Regions from separate parts of the Homo sapiens genome. Here all the other regions are linked to region 1. The links come from fine-mapping of genetic effects on gene expression. A gene starts in region 1. Each other region holds a variant in brackets. All regions are shown on one strand. Distances are from middle to middle.

Evidence for each region.
Region 2: its variant is fine-mapped to the expression of DCAF6 in whole blood (TOPMed, PIP above 0.99).
Region 3: its variant is fine-mapped to the expression of DCAF6 in fibroblasts (GTEx, PIP above 0.99).

Annotation. Positions count from the first base shown.
Region 1 is chr1:167,932,989-167,941,172 of GRCh38, reverse strand. It overlaps DCAF6 (DDB1 and CUL4 associated factor 6), which reads right to left and starts at 4,490. Exons shown (of 22, transcript NM_001198956.2): 1 at 4,165-4,490. The coding sequence starts at 4,261. MPC2 (mitochondrial pyruvate carrier 2) reads left to right here and starts at 4,101. Exons shown (of 6, transcript NM_001143674.4): 1 at 4,101-4,234; 2 at 5,275-5,440. The coding sequence starts at 5,332. RefSeq lists silencers at 4,085-4,324, 4,355-4,424, 5,025-5,194 and enhancers at 4,605-4,914, 5,365-5,474.
Region 2 is chr1:167,859,836-167,868,019 of GRCh38, reverse strand. It overlaps ADCY10 (adenylate cyclase 10), which reads left to right. Exons shown (of 33, transcript NM_018417.6): 15 at 6,957-7,149; 16 at 8,127-8,184. It also overlaps a transcript of DCAF6 not described here. Among named protein-coding and RNA genes, the nearest start is that of ADCY10, 50 kb to the left of the region's middle. RefSeq lists enhancers at 5,645-6,162, 6,163-6,679. The variant G/A (reference allele first, on the strand shown) is at 3,236.
Region 3 is chr1:167,788,721-167,796,904 of GRCh38, reverse strand. It overlaps MPZL1 (myelin protein zero like 1), which reads right to left. Exons shown (of 6, transcript NM_003953.6): 6 at 4,986-8,184. Among named protein-coding and RNA genes, the nearest start is that of MPZL1, 71 kb to the right of the region's middle. RefSeq lists a silencer at 4,174-4,322. The variant C/G (reference allele first, on the strand shown) is at 4,692.

The sequences.
Region 1 (8,184 bases):
AAAGAAACAAAATACAAATATTTCACTAACTTTTCCCCAATGGCTAAAAAAAGAGGCAAAAGTCAGAAGTTACTAATCTTCATATAATAAATACACTGTAACTTGGCAACATATTATGAAGAACCTGGTAATCTAGAATGCAGATGTATTCAAGATGCACTAAAGAGTAATCGACACGCAAAATTATCCATTTCAGTACATACTGACTCTAATGATATTCAAAGGACACTGACTTCATAAACTCCTTACAAAAAGATGAGATTCAATCTCCACTAAAAAATTGTCACTGGCTGCCTAATCATAATTTACACATTTTATACATTATAATAAATAACTCCCTTGAGAAGTACCTTAAAATTACTTTTTTATCAATTACTATCTTTTAATTTAGAAGGGTTAGAAAGTTGTAGGAGTGTCTGTCCAAAAGGAAAGAAATATGAGTAGAAACAAGCAATGTATTGAAATAAGTTTATTTTATTAACAATGTTTATCTTTACAAAACCGTATATATATGGGATAATAAAATCTGTGTGGCTAATAAATCACTGATTTCCAAAAGCACTACTCTACACCTAGTATACAGTAATTTGAGAAACTATTACATTTAAACATTTAAACCTACAGGTATCTCTGACTTTGATAATTATTCTTTAAAAAAAAAAAAAATTCCAGGAGGCTGAGGTGGGAGGATGGCCTTGAGCCCAGGACGTGGAGGCTGCAGTGAGCCATGAGGGTGCCACTGCACACCAGCCTGGGAGACAGAGCAAAACCCTGCCTCACCCTGCCCCCCGCCTCCCACCAAAAAAAAGAATCCTACATTGAAATTTAGATAGGGCTCACAAAGATTAAAATCCCTGGCCTATCCTCTAAATCCATGCTAGTCTAAAACAACACTCTGTTGGCCCAGGTGAATCTTGTGGATTTGGGAGCTCTAAGTAAACATATCTTTTAATCATAAATAACATCTGGGAAATTATTCATCTTCATTCCCACAACATAATAGGAAGTTTTCTGAAGTATAATTTTCTTTGATGGGAAGAAAGGAGATAATTAATCAGTTTAAGTAAAATCAATTACAAAGCTTGAATATTAACATTGAAAGGGCACATGCTATGGTGAAATAACTGGAAATGTAAAGGCTACAAGAAAAATTTATCTATTTGTTCTATCCCAATTTTACTATTTAGCAGTAATTCACTGCTAAAAAATCTGTAGAAATACAAATAATGAAAATGTATCAGAAAAATACTTAAATCTACAACCCTGTAGATAGACAATCGTAATGTTTAAATATTGAAGTCTTTTAAAAAAGGAATCTATTTCCTTAGGAAAATCCTAACTTGGAATTTGACTTTTAAAAGGAAGGCTTTATAAGTGTACCATACTTTATTTATTTATTTATTTATTTATGACGCAGAGTTTCCCTCTGTCGCCCAGGCTGGAGTGCAGTGGCACAATCTTGGCTCACTGCAACCTCCACTTCCCAAGTTCAAGCTATTCTCCTGCCTCAGCCTCCCAAGGAGCTGAGACTACAGGCGTACGCCACCACTCCCGGCTAATTTTTGTATTTTTAGTAAAGACCAGGGTTTCACCATGTTGGCCAGGCCGGTCTCAAACTCCTGACCTCAAGTGATCACCCACCTTGGCCTCCCAAAGTGCTGGGATTCCAGGCGTAAGCCACCGCGCCCGGCCAAGAGTACTGTACTTTAAAAAGTCATTTTATCTAATAATAAAAATAAAATTAATAATAATGATAAAGTCATTTTATCGCCACACACAAAAAAAGATGGTAATTATGTGACATGATGGATATGTTAATTAACTTGATTGTATATGAAGTTATCAAGTCCTACACCTTAAATATAACAATTTTTAATTGTCAATTATACCCCAATAAAACTGGGAGGGAAAGTCATTTTTTAAAAAAAACCATCACTAATTCAAACATTACCAATGTGGATTTTGCTGCTTCCTGAATGCAAAGCCAGGATTAGCACTGTAGTATAGAAGAGCTGAATAACAGTGTAAAGGTCTACTAAGGGTAAAGGCCAATAAATTAGTTCTTTGCAAACATTTTCAAGTTTCGATACTTTCAAAAAGTATTTTCAAGTACTTAGAAAACCACTTTTAAAGGAAGTCATTCCAAAAATGTCCTATTTTAAGAGTATATATTATCATATCTAAAATATTATTTAAGATAAAGAACTCCCTGTATGTATACATACACATTTGAAAAACTGTAATTCAGGCTTTCTAATATAGTCAGTGAACCCTTCAATTCCCCTAGACCCAATACACAAATTCCATTTCCATTAGGGAGTTGGAGTAGGAGGGGGAAAAGCAGGTATATGGTTTTGTTATATTTTAATTAACTCGTTTGTAGATATAGCTGAAGTAACTGAACCAAAAGAAAACACTAAAATATAGAACTATATACAAGTACTTAAACTGTCCAACTGAGATAAAGGACCAAATTATAAATGTATCCATGCAAAACAATGTTAACGTTTGTTTTATTAAGCTAAAATTAAGTTCTTTCTCCGCAAATAAATTCTAAAAGAAATACTGCACACTTTTTTTGGTAAATAGTTTTAAAAACCAGACTCCAGCTATGTTCAATTTTAAAATGATTAATCACCACTCTAGGTACTTATCCTACAACAAATGCACAGAAGCTTGTAGAATGATGTTCATTAAAATGCTGTAAGGGCGAACGTCTACTTAAAGAAGAAAGGTTGAGTACCCTATGGTACTTCATAATGTTACCTACTATGTAATAATTTAAAAGACAGAATCAATCTATTTTTACTGCCATGGAAAGATCTCCAAAATGTGGAGAAGTGAAAACAATGTTTACAATATGACACCATGCACTCAGGTGTCTCTCTCATACACACACAAACACACACACACCCCAGCATTTGTACATGTACATATGTACTTGTAAGAATGCAAACAAAAAGGTCTGGAAGAATATTCAGAAAACAGAAAATATTATTTCTAAGGGTGGCGGAGTGAAATTGAATGGGAGGGATCAAAGGGATTTTTGCTTCATTTTTATTGAGTTTTTATAAACAAAATGTATTCGTATTTTACTTGAGACACTAAAAAGAATTAAAAAATTGCATGCTAACTTTTCTTAAATAATTTACAAACCAGAACTGTTGGTTGTAATGAGATTTCATTTTCTTCTCTTTACTTGAAATCAAAAACAAATGAGAGCAACAAACACTTTTTAACTAGCAAGTGGCAAAACTGGAAAGAAAAAAATTTTATGATGTTGTTTGCCGTATCTCCAAATAGAAAGAAAGAGTAATGAAGAGTATACAGGAAGAAACAAAAAAGACCTTTACTAAGTACGTCCATTTTTAAGAAACCAAACTTTTTAGTTGACTCGGGCGTGACCTAGAATCCTCAAAAAAAAAATGTTATGCAAAACGAAAAAAGTGGAATACTGTTCCCCCAAGTACTGAAGGTTGTTTTTAGAAAGCTTAACTACGAAACTGTAAATGCCAAGTGTGTTTTCCAGGGGTGGGAAGAGGAACGTGAAACCCTACACCACCTTTAAGCGGTCAAAACGAACTGAAGAGCAGAGTGGAACTGGGAGAGCGCGCGGGGGTGGGGAGAGCTCAGCTATCACTTTTAGGTTTTGGCTCAGCGCCGCAAAAACAGTTTACACGGATTCTGTCTGGAGCGTGAAGTCCCTGAGGGTGGTCAACGCGTCGCAGCCGACACCTAAACCCTCTGGAGATTGAAGGAGAGGGTGGGCAACAACTTAGGTTCTTCGGCTGAGCGGGGAAAGCGCGCTGGAAAAGAGCAAAAGAGCTAACTTTTGCTCTAAACGCGGCAGCTCCTGGAGGTTCCGCAAGTCTCCCGAGTCCCAACCCATCAGCGACCCCAACACCTTTACAAGCCAGTACCTTCTGCCCACGGCCCGGCCCTCCGAGAAAAACCCAGCAAGGGCGGCGGCTGGCAGCATGCACAGGGGGCTTGACTGGGGGAGGCACCGGCACGGAATTCGGCAACCAAGGCCCCACCCAACACCCCAGAGTCTCCGGGCGCCCCCACCGAGACGCCGTCCCACCTCCAACAGACCCGGCAGCGTGCCCCCTCCCCCACTCTAGGCGGCGACCTCAGCGCCTCCGCCCCGGGGCCCCCGCTCACCCAGGTAGCGACTCCGCAGCCGGGACGGGTCCTCCAGCCCGAGGGACCTTTTCCTCACGTCCCACAACAGGTGTGGGTAGGAGCCACCCCGAGACATGGCTCTGCCTGAGCCGGGTGGGAGGGGAGACCACCGCGTGGGGGAGGGGAGGAGGGGGAGGGGACACCCGTTTCAACACCCGAGCCGCACCGGCACCATCCGCGCGCCGGGCCTCCAGGGCGCAGCGTTAGATGGCGGTGGCAGCAGCGGCGCCTGGGCCCCTGAAGCCCGGCCGCACCCGGGCCGGAGCTCGCCTCATACTCTCCTTCTTAGACTAACCAGAACATCCAAAGATCAGCAACAGTCTCCTCCCTCAGCCCCCCTCCAACAGGAGGAGGCGGAGGCGGAGGCGATGGCGACTCCTCCCTCTCCTCGTCCTGGATACCCTCCCCGCCAACCCTTTCTCGCGAGATGACGACCACCCTGGGGACTGAGGCTGGTGTGTGCTGCGGCTGCCCTCACCCTGGAAGAATGCATTCGGGCCACTCTAACCAGATCCTTAAGTCGCTAGGGATAAAAGACGAGTAGAGAGAGAAGCTACTCAATTCTGTAGTCTCTCGCTCACGAGTCTCCAGTGAAAAGAAGCAAGAGAATTGTGCGGCATCATCTTTAGGCACTGAAGGCCCAAAAACCCATTTTAACTACGGGCCTGCTTAATCAAAGTGAAAGGGCAGTAGAACCAGCGCAGCTTCACTTTCCCTTCTCCAACATGGCCTCGAGGGCATGGGGAGAAGGAGGAGGTTTCCGCTCGACCCCGCCCGCGCCTCGGGGCGGGCCAATCATGGCGGGCAGCTCGGCCTGCGCAAGCGCGCTGCCAGCAGGGCGCAGCGCAGACTTGGTGAGGTGATTATTTTGGCACCTGTTGCCATGGCTCCTCCCTCTCTCCTGCCGGGGGCCGGAGGCGGACCGGGGGCTGGCAGTCGGCAGCCTCCGCCCCCTCAACCTTCGCGGGGCGCGGGCCGCAGCTTTTCGGTTCACAGCGGGCAGGGAAAGCCGCGGGAAGGGTACTCCAGGCGAGAGGCGGACGCGAGTCGTCGTGGCAGGAAAAGTGACTAGCTCCCCTTCGTTGTCAGCCAGGGACGAGAACACAGCCACGCTCCCACCCGGCTGCCAACGATCCCTCGGCGGCGATGTCGGCCGCCGGTGCCCGAGGCCTGCGGGCCACCTACCACCGGCTCCTCGATAAAGTGGAGCTGATGCTGCCCGAGAAATTGAGGCCGTTGTACAACCATCCAGCAGGTAATGGACCCTGAATGGCTCCTTATCGAGACCTTCCTTCTCGCTTCCTCTAAAATGGACCTTTTAGAGGCCCTCTGACAACTGCCTCTAGAGGCATCCACAGCCCCAATCCCTTCCCTTCAAGTGAAGCCGTCTACTCTCCTAGCCTGTGCATTTCACCCTCTCTCCTGCAACATCTCTTCCTAAGCCAACGTATCTCAAGTCAGCTCCCTTCCCCACCTATGTGACATCCGCTCCCTTACGCACGACTCCAACCCAAACCTGATCTCCAGATTTGAGCCTTCTCAACTTCTGCGGCCACCAAACTGTCTGGGGCCACCATGAAACACTCATTCTCTTTCTCTTTTCGAATTGTGGCATATTAACCCACTCTAGGCAGAGCTGGATGGGTGGTTTGTCGCACTGTAGGGTTTGGAGTAAAGGTCACTTTCTTCAGCTGCTGCTGGCAGAGGCCTGCAGACTGAGCCCTCCCCCAAACTGCATGCTTTACTTCATCCAGGCTTGAGTCAGTGTCATTTCTCATCCCATAGGTCCAGTGTGTTTTTTTAAGTCTATCCTTATTTATGAAATTGTTGAACAAGCTCTACCCAGAGCTTTTTGTGTGGACAGACCTGGATATCATTCTCTTCTACCACTTATAGTTGTGACCTTGAGCAAAAGCCTAGATCTCTGTTTGTGTAATACGCGGTCTATGAGAATGACAGATAACATATGTGCTTGACTCTTTGTAAATGCTCAGTAAACGTTACATCTCTCTTTGCCTACTGGAAAACTGTGTTCTTGTGGTTGAAAAAAAAAACTGTAAGAAACTGAAAGATTCCAATCCCTTTATTAAAGATCTAGAATTCTGTTACCTCTTCTATAAAGTGAGTTGTAATAATACTTATTTGCTAGGGGCTAACATCAGATATATTCTGAGGTCTGTTTCAAGCCTAAGACTTGGCAAACTAGAAAATGTGTTGTAAATTGAAAGACTGAAGTGCTACCCGAAAAGTGGCTTTTATTCTCCTACATAGTTAAAATCTGTATTCTGTAGTTGGTATCATTAGGAAAGTTGTCTAGTTCCCCCATTATCTGATTATGAACCAGCTCTCTGGAGTCTGAACTGGTTACTAAATCTGATTTCCAGTTTGATAATGGAATGAATTGAACATCTGGATTATACTCTAACCCTTAATATTATTTACTGCAACATTGAACCCATTATAAAACTGATCATTAAGGACAGTTTGTTACTGATTTAAAAAGTTTTTGTTTATTTGCCTTTTAGTTCTTTTAACATTCAATTTTTTTGGAATTATGCTGTGTTTTGTGGCAAAGATTTTCGGGAAGGAGGGTTGAGCTATGCTTTTTGTAATAATCTGGGCTTTACAGAGTCAACTGAATGTGAAGTCAACCCTGACCTTCATAAGCTTTGTGTTTTAGCTGTAGGATAAGGGCATGACAGAGTAAGAGTAATTTTAAACTACTTAAAATAATACAAAATTGGAGGGTAGTCTTACCTTGATCCTTTCCAAGCCTTTAGTTTTTAGCCACCTGTAATTACTGCTTAAAATACTACTCAGCTTTCAGAATGAAGAGGGATTACCTTTCACTTGCAGGATGTGCATTTCACCTGAAAATCCTTGGATTCGTTCAGTTATTTTAACCCCCTTTTTCAGTGTAGTAAAAGGAGCTAGGCTTTGAAGGGAAATAGACCTACGTTTCAGTCTTGGCTGTGTGACCTTGACCCTAAATTCCTGCCTTAGTTATCTCATCTATAAAATGGGAGTAATTGTAATCATTTCAGGATTGTTGTGAAAATCAGATGATCTAATGTCTCTAAAACATGTAGCACAGCGTTTGCACTTAGACTCTCAATAACTGTCAGTTCTAAAATTTGAGCAACATACAGAGTAAGGATATCTATTACAGCAGAATTATTTATGATCGACAAGTTGGAGGCACACCAGTGTAGAAATGGAGGAGCTTGAAAAATACGTTGACTGATGAGTATTGAATAAAATCTAAGGAAACACTGATTATTGTCTTAAGAGTTTATCCAGAGTGAATATTCAAGGATTTTGCATACTATTTTGCCTAACAGTATTTGTTATTGAATTGTCATTGAAACATTTTTCTAGATTCACCTACAAGGAGTTTATTAAATGATATGAAATGCTACAATATTAACAGTTGGAAATCATACATTGCTGATTCTAGATTTTTGAGATTTAATTTTATCACTGACACTGTATGTCTCGACAGGTAACAAGAATGTGTTTTTAGCCAGGCACGGTGGCTCACACCTGTAATCCCAGCACTTTGGGAGGCTGAGGTGGGTGGATCACCTGAGGTCAGGAGTTTGAGACCAGCCTGACCAACATGATGAAACCCTATCTCTACTAAAATACAAAAATTAGCCGGGTGTAGTGGCGGGTGCCAGTAATCTCAGCTACTTGGGAGGCTGAGGCGGGAGAATCACTTGAAACCAGGAGGTGGAGGTTGCAGTTAGCCAAGATCGTGCCATTGCACTCCAGCCTGGCAACAGAGCGAGGTTCTGTCTCAAAAAAAAAAAAAAAAACTAATGTGTTTTTATGTATAGATACATATTTTAGTTACAGTATTGCATCTCTGACCTGTGAGCCAGAATTTTGAGGCTCTCATTATCCATTTGCCTATGTGTTTTTGCTGGCATGTCATGATCTGCCACTGTAGAGAAGGAATAGAGTTCTAGCCAAATGTGTGTCCTGGTCAAGTTCCTC
Region 2 (8,184 bases), 73 kb after region 1:
ATACGTGTACTTCTTTTTTTCTACCTTGGGTTTAAGGGATTTGTAATTACTAATTTCAAGGGGTTGCAGCTTCCACTCGTACAGGAGGGGCTGCCTTCTCCTTTTTGGAGCTAAACAGGGTCTTTTTCATCCTTTTTCTAAGTAGCCTAGATGACACAAGACCAGTAATTACACACATTTGCACATGAGCTTAATTCGTGGCAGATATACTTATTTCCTGCTGTGTAACTTTTTTTTTTTTCAGTTTAAAGAACCGCATCTTATTCTATGCCGATTGCTATTGATAGTGGCACAAGCATTAAATTTTAGTGTTACATGCTTGGGGATCCCTCTTTCTTCTGTCTTAGCTATTACTTTACTTGTGTCACCTAGAAAAGGACCAGTCCTTAATTTATTTTAAAAAACTGTGATCATTGGAGGCTTAAAATGGGTCATAACACACATCAGGTTGGTTATTTCCTAGGCTACATACCTTGGATAGAATAGCATTATACAAACAAGTTTCTTTTAGAGTCCTCGTACACTTATAATAACCATGAAATAATAGGACTGTAGCAATCTTTTGTCCTACCTCAGTGACTTGATGTATATACTGGGAACAGTTCTCAGTCTGAGGAAGGTCAGTTGAAGTCCTTACTGTACAAGTCCAAATTTTAAGGAAAATGAGTCCCGTGATGAGTTTTCTCATGCTTCGGCCGTGCGTGGACCAGTCAGCTTCCGGGTGTGACTGGAGCAGGGCTTTTTCTGAGTCACTTTGCAGAGGTTGGTGAAGCTGCTCCCATCCACGTACAGCTCCCAGTTTACTGATGTTTAAGGATGGTTTTGGAGGTTGGGCCCACTAGAATAAACTGAGTCCAACACTTCTACACAGTTATGTTTAACTGGGCTCTCTGATACCAGGAGCAAGGTGGCGGGGTTTAGGGTGTTGCAAACTTCAATGGTTATGTGGGGATTTTCACAGAGCAAGCTTTGGTATCTAGTTAGTCTAGCATTCATTAGCTAATGATGTCCTTTGGTACTGATTAAAGTCACCACAGCATGGGGGGGACTTTATGTTTAGGTTTTGCCTAAGAGTTAGCTTATCTGCTTCTTGTGCTAACAGGGCCGTTGCTGCCAGGGCCCTTAGATATGGGGGCCAGCCTTTGGAAACCCCATCTAGTTGTTTTGAGAGATAGGCCACTGGCCTTGGCCAGAGCCCTACAGTCTGGGTTAAAACTCCAACTGCCATTTTTTTTTTTTGAAGATAACCATTCTTTTTTTTTTTTTTTTAAGTGAACTTTCTTTATATCTGTGGACTAGACTGTCTAAGGCCACAAGATTAGAAGTTACTATAATACATGTTACACTGTTAACTTTTAGCAAACTTTACTTTTGTTGAAAACCTTGTAAGTTTGGGATTTCAATTATCCTTTGCTATGAGTAAGACCTTGTTTAGTCTAAATTAACTTAGAATTGGTATAGATGGCCCTTTTTTTTTTTTTTTTTTTTTGGCACATAGAGTGTGCACTTTCGTCAGGTCAGGTAGCCCCAGGGCTGGGGCCGACCTGAGTTTTTCTTTCAACTCATGAAAAGCTTGTTGCTGTTGTTTGTAATAGATATAATTTATCTAATTTACATTTTTATTAACATCACTCACTAAAATATTGACTTAAATTTTGTAGCTATTTGATTTCAAGCTTTAAATTGATCTGGTATTCCTCGTGGGACTCCAATTGCGTCTAAATGGACGTGAGAGTCGAAAGACCTATAAGGGGGCTTCTCTCGCTTTACGATGTCTTATTTTTCCTCCCTCTTGTTGATGAAATGCCAGGGTGAAAGGGATAGCCAACTGGACTAAAGTATAAGTGCCACTCCAGTTATTCGGCAGAGTGCCCAGTAAAGGTCCACCACAATACCACCACACATCCGCTTGGGGATGAACAAGGGCTGACTGATTGATAAGCTCTTGAAAATTCTTAAGCTCATTGCATCACTTCAGGTCTCCAAGGAATCCTAAGTTTCCTCTCTGTGGTGAGAGACATGAAGTGAACTTAGTGTTGGGAGACGGAGGCTGGATGGCCCTCGGGGGCTGACCCACAGGGATAGCAGAGAGAGTTTGGCATGACTTATTACTCCAGGCTGTAGAATCCTGGAAAAGAGCTACCATGCAGCCCACGCCTGGTGGACTGGAGGACCACTTTAGTGGAAGGGGGACAATGAGGGCCTCTGGCCTGCCATGTGCACAAGCATAACAACTGCTTTTGTTTAATGTGCAGATGGAATATTTGATCCATTTCAACCAGGCATTTGCATCTTGGTATGCTGTCTTAATTGCCAAAGTTTGTTTTAAGTCTTTAACTTCTATGATCCTCTAGTAAAATGAATGTTTCCTTTAGGACCTATTTTTATTAGTTTTTAGACCAAAGAAAGCTAAACACCATTTTATATTTAATAATACTTCTTGTATGATTTTTATACCAGATAAGCTAAATTTTACCTTTATATTAGTGTGTTATTAATGTTAAACTTAATTTTAATAAAACCTCATAGACATATTTATCCAATTTTTCATGTTTGACCATAAGGTAAGTTTTTACAGACTCTTTTTAACCTTTTATAATTTTTGTTAAAGAGCAGGTTGGTGCTTCAAGAAAAACCTGTTGCATTTTTACTTTAATGTCCAGTTCACAGAAAAACTGGATGATACCTTTTTATCTTTAGCTAATTAGTTTACACACAGAATTTTTTTTTACAATTAACATTTTAAAACTTGCTTAAACTTTCAAAACAATAATTTTTTTAACCTTTTAATGTAGGTAAAAATCCACATTCTTATGCCTCCTTCTAATCTTTTTACCAAAAGTATATTTTACTTTTCTTATGCACCTTGCACATAAACTGTTTCTTCAATAGTACTCAGGAGGCCTTATTACTTTCAAATTATACAATATTTTTTGCATAAATTTTTTATAACATCGTTTTCTATGACTTTCGCAGATAATTCTTTGACATGTCTCAACTTTCTGACTTATTACAAATATTTCTTTCTTTAAACAACAGTTAATTTATTTCAAGACAAGAATTTACCATATAACACTCTTTTTACATAAATTTTGCCTTCCCACAGCTCTTTTTTTTTTTTTTTCCTGTTAGCAAAGCAGCTGCTGCTACAGATTGAATGCATCTGGGCCATCCGTGGGTTACTGGGTTAAGGATTTTTGATAGGAAGGCCTCAGTGCTTTCGGGATACGCCCTT[G/A]TTTACACTAACAACAAAGTGGTATTAGAGTGTTACAGGGTTACGGAGAATACCTTTAATTATCAATTTTAGGTTTTAAATTTACCTTGGCTTTTAAAGGGAATAGGGTACACTATTTTTTTCTTAACTACTTGGATATTTCTCTCTATTTTTCTTTCTCTCTTTGACTTTCTGTCTCTCTCTCTCCCTCTCTCTCTCTTTGACTTTCCTTTTGCCTCTGTTTCTTCCTCTCTTTCTGCCTCTCTTAACTACTGTGGGGGCGAAGGGGGTCTAAAACCAGCTGTAATTGTCTACGTACAGAAACTGGTCTGTGTGCCTTGGCTTACAGGTTACCTTGTGCCATACATTTGAAACAAGGGACCTGTCTAGGCTTCCTTCTGATGGCCAACCCACCTCTAATGTTGGCCAGTCTATTTTACACAAAGTTCTAAGTTTTTCTAGTGTCATAGTAACACCGTAATCTCCCTTAAATCCTTTCTTGAAATTTTTCAACATAGTTTCTAGTAGGGTGGGCTTATTTGTGCCTGACCCATGTTTCTTCGAGACAAAACACCACTCTCACACCACATGCACACCACAAAACAAAGAACGGGTAAAAAGGGCACGCACACACTTTTGCAGTTTACACTAAACCAAAATCAAAACCAAAATCAGAGTATTCAGAAATCCAAGCCAGGTCAAAACCAAAACCAAAGTATCAAGCAATCTAAGTCAAGTCAAAAACAAAAACCAAAGTGCCGGAACAGGCACACCGTGGGTGATCAGATCAGGCCATGCTTCCACTCAAATGGAGTGGGAATGGAGTGGGCAAGTTCCCAAGACCAGTCCTGTCAAGTAATTCAAACCAAGTCAAAACCAAAACCAAGTGCTGATAAAGGCACGCCGTGGGTGATCAGGCCATGCTTCCACTCAAATGGAGTGGGCAAGTTCCAAAGACTAGTCTTACCAAGTTTTAGTTGTCCGGACTCCAAGTGCCAATTCCTTCCCGGTGTTCAGCCACTCTGTTGATCCTCCACGGGGGCCTGCCACACACTGCTCTGGCGAGGTGTCCCACCGGGGCAAATGCCTACCCAGGAGAGCTCTCAGGATCCGCGTCACTCTGGCTGGTTGGAGTCCCCAGCAGGGATGTTCCACAGGGCAGGCTAAAGCCGCCTAAGGAGCTGCCTCGACCATCTGTTAATCACCTTGCTTCCCGGTCAGGGAACCAAGAAATGTAGCAGGATGAGCCGCAGACAAAACCCCTCAGACACCGAGATAGTGAAGGGAGTGGCTTTAATCAGCTGGGAGAATCGGCAGGCTAGCGTCTCAAAATCCGAGCTCGTCTGATGCTCAACTTCTGTCCCTTTTAAGGGCTCACAACTCTAAGGGGGTCCGCATGAGAGGGTCGTGATCGATTGAGTAAGCCAGGGGGTACGTGACAGGGGCTGTGAGCACCGGTGGTCACAGTGAAACAGAACAGAACGAGAGATTTCACAATGTCCTTCCATACAATGCCCTTCCATACAATGTCTGGAATCTATAGATAACAACAGTTGCTAGGTCAGGGGTCGAATTTTAACTACCGAGCTTAGGTCAGGCAGGCCCAGGCCTGGTTTCGGGTCTGGTTCCTAGGCGCCGGGCTATCTGCCTTTAATTTCACTTTTCTTTCCTTTTCTGAGTATAAAACAATATGAGAGGGTCTGTCTCTTCCCTCAACAGGGAATCACTAGTTCAAACCATTTAGTCCTAAGACTGGAGATAGAGAATAAGAGGTCTTTGGATTTTTCCCTGGAAGACAGATCTAATATACTTGTCTCATGTTGTTTATTTATTTTCATATAAGGAATATTATGAGGGCTATCTTTGGGACAATCCATTCTACTTCCTCATGGAAGTAGATAGTATGGTATTCAATAACAGTGGTGATGACCAGGACAATAATGATGGTGACTCATATCCCTTCCCCACCTAACCTAAACAGTGTGAGGGGAAAATGCTTGTTAATCTTATAATATTCTTAGCTGTATCTCTATCCCACATTAAAGTTAGGCCTGAGAAAGGCCAGTTTTAAAATATCTTTATCATTGCTGAAGGGATAATTCACAACAGTCAGAAGACATTTGTTTATTCATGTATTCAATCATTAATTGAATTCCTACTATGTTCAGGAACTACTAAGTGCTGTATTCACTAGCCGGGGCCTCTGTAAAAAAGTACTACAAATGGATGGCTTACAACAGAAATTTGTCTCATAGTTCTCAGGGGTAGGAGTCTGAGATCAAGGCATCTTTTCTTCTCTGGACCATGAGGAAGAATCTGTTTCATGCCCACCTGCTAGCTTCTGGTGGTTGCTGGCCATCTTTGGTGTTCCAAAGATGGCTTGTAGAAGCGTCACCCTAATCTCTGCCTTCATGTCACATGGCATTCTCCCTGTGTGTTGTTTGTGTCCAAATTTCTCCTTTTTATAAGGGCATCAGTTTTATTGGATTAGAGGCCTACCCTACTCTAGCATGATCTCATCTTAACTAATTGTATCTGCAACGACTCTCTTTTCAAATAAGGTCACACTTTGAGGCCCTAGAGGCTAAGAATTTAACATATGAATTGTGGGGACATGTGTCAACAAGTGCCAAAGCCCTGAATATCAATAAAGTCTGCTCTCTGCCCTCAAGGAGCTCTCACAGAAGAGGAGGAGAGAGATAATGTGTTAGTCGTTTTCACGCTGCTATAAAGAACTACCTGAGACTGGGTAATTTATAAAGAAAAGAGGTTTCATTGACTCACAGTTCCACATGGCTAGGGAGGCCTCAGGAAAATTATAATCATGACAGAAGGCAAAGGGGAAGCAAGGCATGTCTTACATGGTGGCAGGAGAGAGCGAGCAAGGGAGGAAGTGCCAAACTTTTAAACCATCAAATCTCATGAGAACTCCCTCACTATCATGAGAACAGCATGGGGGGAACCGCCCTCATGATCCAATCACTTCCCAACAGGTCTCTCCCCTGACACTCGGGGGTTGCAATACGGGATGAGATTTGGGTGAGGACACAGAGCCAAACCATATCAGATAGCATTAAAAGTTGAATATAGTGAGGGCAACGATAGAGTCATGCAATAGAGAATTGTGGAAGTTCAGAGAAGAAAGGGTATGTAGTCAACCTTAGGACATTGATGACAGTTTCCAGGAGGCTACACCTGAGCTGAGACTTGAGATGAACCTCAAATGAGGGGCAATGAGAAGCCATAGCACTCTGGGCTGAGGAGACAGCATAAGCAAAGGCATGGAGAGGAGAAATAGCTCTGGGTGTGCAGGGAACTCTCACCTGCTTGCTGTTGGTGAAGGGTAGATTGCTAGGCAGAGAGTGGCAAGAAAGGATAGAATGAGGCTTTGGAAAGTCTTGTGTGTCACATAAAGGAGGCCTGGGTTCATGCCGTTAGGCAATGGGAGCTCCCAGTCAGAGGGTCATGACCTGGATGGGGGTAGTGGCTTGCTATTGTGGTAGTATAGGGTGGCAGTAGGACTAGAAAGGAGAGAATTAGCTAGGTTAAATTAATCAGGGCTTAGGAACAGGAGAAGAGGGAGTATATCAGAAGCAGCAATAAAGAACCATTGCGAGATAGCTTGGAAAATCTCCATCATTATAGCTGAATATGAGAAGACAGAGCTTTCCTTCAACCTCTATTATTTTCAAAAATATATATTTAAAAACTCTCTTCTGTTTCTTGATTTTCTCACAAACAGGATTATTGCCATTTCATTGAATAAGATCAGCTTCCATCAAACTTTCTATACCATCCAGATGTTCATGGCCAATGTCCTAGGCCTAGACACTTGTAAACATTATAAAGAACGACAGACCAACCTTCGAAATAAAGTCATGACACTGTTGGATGAAAAGTTCTACTGTCTTCTTAATGACATTTTCCATGTTCAGGTAACTAGCTAGTATTATACTTCTGCACAAATAGCCATGGGCAGGCACAGCAACTCCTCTCTGGTGCATTGTGACTTAGCATCTCTTTGGTCTGTATATCTGCAGTATCCAGATGGTGAGTAAATGGCTCCCAATCCTCTCTGGATGTGCATCAACATTCTTGACATATTAGAGGTATCTTGAAATATCATACTCAAGAAAATCCAAATGGCCATCTGCTGACTAATTTTTTTCTTACCTTTCTATCATAGCTATACTAGCTACTCTGGGACACAAAGTCACTCTGTTCCTACAAGTGATGCCAGTGCAGACTGTGCCCTGTCTTTTCCTGAATTATCTAACACAGGGGTCCTCAACCCCTGGTACTAGTTCATGGCCTGTTAGAAACCAGACCACACAGCAGGAGGCAACCAGTGGGTGAGCAAGTGAAGCTTCATCTCTATTTATAGCCACTCCCCATTGCTCACATTACCACCTAAGCTCCTCCTCTTGTCAGATCAGCAGCAGCATTAGATTCTCATAGGAGCCTGAACCCTATTGTGAACTGTGCATGCAAGGGACCTAGGTTGCATGCTCCTTATGAGAATCTAATGCCTGATGATCTGTCACTGGCTTCCATCACCCTCAGATGGGACCATCTAGTTGCAAGGAAACAAGCTCAGGGCTCCCACTGATTCTATCTACATTATGGTGAGTTGTATAATTATTTCATTATATATTACAATGTAATAATAGAAGCAAAGTGCACAATAAATGTAATGCACCTGAATCATCCTAAAATCATCCCCTCTGCCGCAGTTCATGAAAAAATTGTTTTCCACAAAACTAGTCCCTGGTGCCAAAAAGGTTGGGACCACTTATCTAACACATGAGGATTTTAAGACACAGAATAGTTAAGTGTTTTGCCCAAAGTTGCATAGCCAGTAGTTCCCTTTGCTATTTTCCCATACTCAATATTCTCATAATTCTTTGTACAGTTCCCTATTTCTCGGGAGATTTCCAGGATGAGCACCTTGAAAAAGCAAAAACAATTGG
Region 3 (8,184 bases), 140 kb after region 1:
TTTTGTAAAATGTTCCACATTCTTTTTTTTTTTTTTTTTTTTTTTTTTGAGACGGAGTCTCGCTTGTTGCCCAGGCTGGAGTACAATGGCACGATCTCAGCTCACTGCAACCTCCACCTCCTGGGTTCAAGTGATTCTCCCCTTCTCCCCGCTCAGCCTCCCGAGTAGCTGGGACTACAGGAGCATGCCACCGCCCCCGGCTAATTTTTTGTATTTTTAGTAGAGATGGGGTTTCACCATGTTGACCAGGCTGGTCTTTAACTCCTGACCTCAAGTGATCCGCCTGCCTCGGCCTCCCAAATTGTTGGGATTACAGGCATGAGCCACTGCACCCGGCCAAATGTTCCACATTCCTATGAATCTATTGTACCTTCTAAGAGATTCCCTACAAAATATATTTAAAAGTTCTTTCTTTTAAAAGAAACTTTGTAATTTAAAAAATAATTCTATTCAAAGGCAGAGAAAGAACCAACAATGTACTCTAGTATTGAAATTCAGTTTCCTTGGAGTCCTTATCACAGAATGAGAAACCTCAGGCCTTAAGATGGTTTTTAGCTGTTCTATCCCCCGCTCCCATAGCAGAGCAGTGACTCAGGTATAAATACCTGAAATCATTTAATGCCCTGAAGGGCAAAGTAACCAGAATTTTGTCAGCCCCACAGCACGGAGGGCAAGGCTTGAAAGCAAATCTGCACCACATCCTCTTCACAGAGGTAGGGAGATTTTAAAAGACAAACAAACAAACAAACCCAGCCCTTCCTTATATTCTGCAACACTAAAGGCCAGCTCCACAAAGGCCACAGTGAAGAAATGGATGGACAAACAAATCCAAAAGCCTGAGCCAAGAAGGGACAATAGCTTCACATCCTGTTTGCAGGAGGAAATGGAAGCTGGAAGCAGCAGTTCCCTACGGACCCCTTTGGGCTTTACGTCTATGTTTTCTTCTTTGCAAACACAGCCAGGTCTCCCGTGGATTCTAGAGCTCCCTCCTGCCTTCCACTCCCAGTTGTTTTTCTAACAACCCAAGACTCAGTCAAACTTGAGAGCAGCCAGTGTGCTCTGTGGCCAGCTCCTGATGGCTTTAGGAAGGATGTGAGGAGGGCAGGGGAGCTTGTGAGCCACTTTCATCGCTCTCAGATATTAGATCCCATTTCCAAGGCCAAGGACGTGACTGATTCTGTGTTGCTTCTCTGAGCCTGCAAATTATTTGGCTTTTCTTCCTTAATAGCTCATGAAGGCAAATGACAATTACAGCACTACTTGTAATAGCCAATAACAAAACAACTGGAAACAACCTATCCAGAAGATCAGAAATGGTTTAAAATGCAAAGGCTGGCTGCGGTGGCTTATGCCTGTAATCCCAGCACTTTGGGAGACCGAGGTGGGCGGATCACCTTAAGTTGGGAGTTTGAGACCAGCCTGACCAACATGGAGAAACCCTGTCTCTACTAAAAATACCAAATTAGCAGGGCATGGTGACGCATGCCTGTAATCCCAGCTTGGGAGGCTGAGGCAGGAGAATCGCTTGAACTTGGGAGGTGGAGGTTGTGGTGAGCTGAGATCACGCCATTGCACTCCAGCCTGGGCAACAAGAGTGAAACTCTGTTTAAAATAGAAAGAAAAAAAGAAATGGTTTAAAATATTCCGGCGCATCTACAAAAGACAAAGTCCTGCAGGTGCTATTATCTAATGACCTAGTTCTTCATGCTGAAACTTCTCTGCCATAATGCTAAGGGAAGAAAGCAAACTGCAGAGCACCATGATCCCATTTTGGGTTTAAAAATAGGCAAAAAAAAAAAAAAAAAAAAAACTTTACCAGAACTATGTTTGGATCCTGACTGGAAGAAACCACTTGTAAAATGCCATTTTTTAAGACAAGGGAAACTTGAATATTAACTGGGTAATAATATATAAAACCAAGGATTTTGTTTGTAAAAAATGTGTTTTAGGACAGGTTTTTGTTAAATGTGACAAGATATTGTGATTATGTAAGAAAATGTCCACATTTTTAAAAGATGCACAGTGAAGAATGTAGGGGTGCACTTACATGATTTTGGGATTTGTTTTAAAATAATTCAGAAAAGAGGAAAAAAGAAAAAAGGGGCTGGATAAAATAAGTATTGAAGATAATAAGTGTATGCAGGTTGATTTTACTATTCTCTCTTCTTTTGTATATGTTTACATTTTTCTTTTTTTGCCATCTCACCAATTTAATAAAAAGCAGAAAATTCAATCAATCATCAGTCAATCTTTTCATTTCCAAAAGGATCAAATAACCTATGGGGCATTAATAGGATCTATTCTTTTAATGTCTTCAAGGAACAACCAGAACGTTTTAAGCAATTTTCAGTATGATGATACAAATAATTGAAACAATTATCTTTCAAGTTTCCTGTCTAACTGGGTATTTCAAACAAAAATGCTAATATTGCTGAAGTGAGTTGATACATGCTCTGAAATCCCCACATCACTTGACACCTCTGGGAAATTTAAGTGGCCTTCATATTTCAAGCTCATTAATACCAGTGGAAATCATACCTGCAATAAGAGAGATGAACTTTCAGCACATAGGAAGCTGCCTTTCCATCACTGATGAACAGGGTGTAACAGAAAGGTGACTCCAGGCTGTATGTGAGTCGTAATTCCTGTCATGTAGTTTTGTTACACTCAGCCAGTCATATACTTTTATTTTCACCTCTTTTGGGCAACAATAGGAATTTGTGAAATGGTTTTTGTGGAGTCAAGAGTAAGTCTGTGGTTGGCATTATGAATCTCTGATGCCATGGCCAGAATCTCTGCCTACCTACTTTCTCTATCTAAATCAGGACACATCTATTATTGTATCACTGGAAAAAACTGAGACAGATCATAGAGCTGAACATAATCCAAGATACACATAAAGCTATGAGTAAAGTTAATGTACAAAGTGTATATGGAGTGTACAATCTGTGTACAGTGGTAGAAAGTGACCCACAAATTTGGCTAGGACCTAGAGAATAGCAAAAGCAAAGAGACAAATACAATCAGTGACAAGTCAGTGCACATGACTAGTTTGAAACAAAATATTCATAAGAAACAGTTTTCCTGGTGTATTACTTGTTTTCACGCTGCTATAAAAGATACCTGGGACTGAAGGCCAGGTGTGGTGGCTCACGCCTGTAATCCCAGCACTTTGGGAGGCCAAGGCGGGCAGATCACCTGAGGTCAGGAGTTCGAGACCAGCCTGGCCAACATGGTGAAACCCTATCTCCGCTACAATACAAAAAAAAATTAGCCGGGAATGGTGGCGCATGCCTGTAATCCCAGCTACCCAGGAGGCTGAGGCAGGGGAATCGCTTGAACCCAGGAGGTGGAGGTTGCAGTGAGCCGAGATCGTGCTACTACACTCCAGCCTGGGCGACAGAGTGAGACTCCATCTCAAAAAACAAACAAACAAACAAAAAACAAACAAAAACAAAACCCCAAGACTGGGTAATTTATGAAGAAAAGAGGTTTAATTGGCTCACCGTTCTGCAGGTTACACAGGAAGCATAGCGTCTTTGGCTTCTGGTGAGGCCCCAGAAAGCTTCCAAATATGGCGGAAGGCAAAGGGGTAGTGAGGCTTCTCATGAGGCGTCTCACGTGGCGGGAGGAGGAGCGAGAGAGCAGAGTGGGAGGGTGCTGCATACTTTTAAACAAACAGGTCCCATGAGAACTCACAATCACGAGAACAGTACCAAGGAGGACGGTGCTAAACCATTCATTAGAAATCTACCCACTGTGATCCAATCACCTCCCACCAGGCCTCACCTCCAATGCTGGGTATCACAATTCGACAGATTTAGGCTGCGACACAGATCTCAACCATATCATCTGGTATTAAATCCAGAGAGATATTTGTGCTGTGGGTCTTTATAACATTGAAAAATGTATGACAGGGAATAACGTTCTCAAAGCCATGCTGGCAGTAAAGTACAATAAGTAGCTAGTTTCCTAGGACTCTTTTTTATGACATACTTCAATGTAGGCTGATAGAATTATGTCAAAGGGGCTGGGCCTAGTGGCTCACACCGGTAATCCCAGCATTTTGGGAGACTGAGGCGGGCATCTCTACTAAAAATACAAAAAATTAGCCGGGTGTGGTGGCGCGTGCCTGTAATGCCAGCTACTGGGGAGGCTGAGGTGGGAGAATCGCTGGAACCTAGGAGGTGGAGGTTGCAGTGAGGCAAGATCATGCCACTGCACTCCAGCCTGGATGACAGAGCAAGACTGTCTCAAAAAAAAATTTTTTTCAAATTATATCAAAGGGTAATTTCATTAAAGTAATTCTACAAAAAAACAAAATATATTGAAATTGTTCATACAATATCTTGACTATGCAAGAGGAAAGTGCAGGGGAGAACCCGCCATAAAAGCAGATGGTTGGCTCCTACCACCAGCTCTACCAATACCACAGATGCCACTTTCCTCCCCGTGGCTGCTCCCTCGCCTTTCCTGCACAGTGGGAGGATGAAGTCAGTGGTTCCCCAGTCCAGTTAGCACAGGAACTACCCAGAGGGGTCAGAAGGGAGCCAACTGGGGTGAGAGAGTATCTGAGTTTCCTCTAAACACTGCTCAACTCAGCTCCCTCAGGGGTGGAAGCTGCTCTCATAAATAAAAAGTCCATCTTTGGTTGGCAAGGCCCCTATGTAGCTTGGAAACCAGAGCCCCAG[C/G]AGGTGGATGCCCTCCGACACTTAGTGCTGACTTGGAAGGAATTGCAGAGATGACAAAAATGTGATTCCATCACTCACTGCTGCCCTTGTGTGGTGAAGGAAGCATCCCTTTTCTTTTTGTCACATCACGCAAGATGGATGCTGTTCACATGTGAGAATTACTCCCAGGGGAGTTCCTGCCAGCTGTAACTCATCTTCTCCCACTCAAGAACGCATTAGGTTTTGCAAGCCCAAAGTTATGCAAGGCAGGGGCTCATTGTGAATCCATGGTAATTTATAAAATTACTAAGTCACTGCGAAGCCTCAATGTTTTATTAGTAACACATTATTTGTAACATAGTTCTCAACAAATTAAGTCACCACATTGTCTTCCAGACTGAGGTTAAAGCTCTCAGACATCTGTGCCTACCACCTAGACTACACTACCCTCTCAAGTTCCTAAGGGACTCTCTAACCAGCTCCTAAGGGACTGGGAGAAAACTGCAACTGCATTTCAGCACATTTATTTGAGTAAGGAAGCAGTTTGGTACTTCCTTTTGGTGTGAGAGGCCACAGGGCATAGTGGTTAGGAACAAGGCTGTGGATCAAACAGCGGCCCCAGGCCCAGCCCCTCTTCTCTGTTCCTTTATTAGCTAAGTGGCCCTGGGTAAGCCATATAATCTTTCAAACAATGGGATTAAGATTAGTACAATTACTGTTAACTCACAGAAATAATAGAGAAAGAAATGCAAAGTGCCTGGCTCACACCAAGTATTTGGTAACTACTAGTTACTTCCATTCATGTCACCTGTCACCTCCACCCTGTGGCAAGCTCCTTGAGGAGCTTTGTCTTGTTTTGTTTCCTTATGCTTAGCACAGTGCTTGGCACAGGATTGTTCTCAGTGTAGGTTGCTGAATGGATGAATGCTTCCACCTACTCATCCATCCACGTAACATGTATTGAGCAGCTAAGTGCCAGGTGCTGTTCCCTTTACTGCAGACGGAGCAGTGAACAAAACAGCAAGGTTCTGGTCTCTTGTTAACTATGTTCTAATGCGGGAGAACAGACAAGTGTGTACTGGGAAAGAGGGAGAGAAATAGAGTAACTAGAGCAGAACTGAGGGGGCCAGGAAGGCTGAGGCGGTGGGGTGGGGGGCTTGCTCTTTTATATATCACAGAAGGTCTCCCTGAGGAGGTAACATTTGAGCAGAGGCTTAAAGGAAGTCAGAGAGCAAACCACAGGAATATTGGCAGAAGGCATGCTTCAGGCCCAGGGAACAGCATGTGCAAAGGCCCAGAAGCAGGCACACGGACGGCATTTTTGAAGAAAAGAAGGCAGGTGTAGCTGGAATGATATGAGTGAAAGGCATATCTCTTTTTCTATTCTGGTCAAAATGAGCACACAACACAATTCAGAAATTGAAAAAGATGTATTAAAATATTCACAAAAATACAACTGAAGATCAAAAAATAATAATGAGCTTGATGGTTTTTCCCTAGCTGATATATTTCCATTGAAAAACTAGAGATAGTTTGAAATTTCAATCTCTAAGTAATGCCTTTTGAGTGCTCCCATACAGAATTAGCGCATAATTTTAAGACGACCCTGTTTGCCAGGACGAAGACATGGAGAGGGCAGATCTGCCCTTTAGGCAACCTTAGTTCGTTATCTGCAACCAGGAAAGGAGTGCTGAGGCACAGGGAAAAGGGGAGCCAAAAGGGCTGCAGGGGTGGGTGTGCAGGGCTTGGGAAGAGGTCCTGCCCTGAGAGGCTCATCTCAGTGTGAGCAGCTTCCTTCAGGGAAACCTGTCCTGGCAGAGCACCATGCTGGCAGCTGCCCTTGCCTGGGGGGAAGGTTGGTGAGAACTGGTGAGGATTCTCTGCCAGAATGCCAGGGCACTGACAGAGTTTGAGGTGTCTGGTTGGGCAGGAGGCCAAGAAGTCGGGCTGGGGAAGGGAGTGGTAAGGGAGGAACAGGCCTCCAGGTGTCATTCGAGTGAGTGGCCCCCACAGCACCAGCTTCACCAACACATGGTCCCGGCACCGCAAGAAGAAGTGAAGGCTCTTGCTCTCAGGGAGCTCCGAAATGTTTCATTTATTCACAGGAACTGTTGAGAAAGCAGTGAAAAAACAATGCCCCTTTTCTCTGTAAAAAACGACTGTAAGGAAACATGACACAGGCCTGTCTACAATGTGTGTCCTCTGTACCTCAAGCACAGCCCTGGTCAGCTATGTGGTTTTCATGGTGGCAAAGGCTCACCAGGAGTCTCAGCTTGAAGGATGGTGACAATCTCAACACCCTTCCCCTCCAAACATAAGAGGCCTTCCAAAGGCTCCTATAGTTTTCAAAATAGATGCCCAAAAAGTTTTAGGATGCAAGGCAGAGTTGACCACTTTGTGGAAATGTCTCAGGGCCAGCACTGTGTGTCACTCTCTTGGGCTGGGCCTATGAACATGGAAGGCAGCAGGGCAGGCGTTTTTTTCTCCATTCCACACAGAACACAGAGCAGACGCTGCCCAGCTTCAGACATGTGTGGTGACCAAACCTGATCCCTGTTGACTCACACAGATGTGGCATGTAAGGTGGAGCGTTACAAGAATAACAAAAATAGCTCCTCAAAAAACAAAAGGCTTCATGTATGCAACAGCATTAGTTTTGAAGCTCATATGCCCTTTATCTTACCACCTTGTGCACACCTCAAAATCTCAATCCTGTTTTATTCCCTTTGTGAATTCTGTTGGAACTCAGCCTTCAAACATCCCCAGAAGATGACAAGATGAGAAGAAAAAGCAGCAGCTCATAATGGACTCCAAACTACAGGGAGAAAAAGTAACATTGCCCCTCACTCCCACTCACCCCAAACACGTTCTGCAGACCATCTAGACAGTAATTCTTTCCATAACTGTGGGCTTTCGAACAATTTTAAAAGGGGGGAAATTTAAAAAAAAATTCAGAAAATGGGAGAAATGACAACATAAGTGTTGAATGATCTTCACCACACTTTCCATTCCCAGTAAAAAGTAAAAACTCATAGATTTTAAGTGCGGTGGGGAGTAGTGAATAGGAGAAAACAAGTTTTAGGGAAGGACAGCCAAACTGTCTAATCTAGGCTCTCATTAACCTCAACAGTCTTTGAGGCACCATGAAGCTGTTATAAAGCCATGACTGATGCTGCCTCTTGCTGGAAGCATGACTGACGCTTTATAAAGAAGGTGATTCTTGCCAGCTGCAGTGGTGCAACTATAGTTCGTTCCAGCTACTCGGGAGGCTGAGGAGGGAGAATCACTTGAGCCCAAGAGTTCAAGGCTAGTCTGGGCAACATAGTGAGACTCTACCTCAAAAAAAAAAAAAAAAGCGAAAGAAGGTGATTCTCTAGAGAGCGAGCTCTGGGAGATTGGAGAGCGGCAACATAATGATACCATTTCTGCCTACTTAGAAGGAAAGAAACTCCTCTCCTTTAGCTGTATGGTGACTGTTATTTCAAGCAGAAAGGACATCAGCAAAGAATAAAAC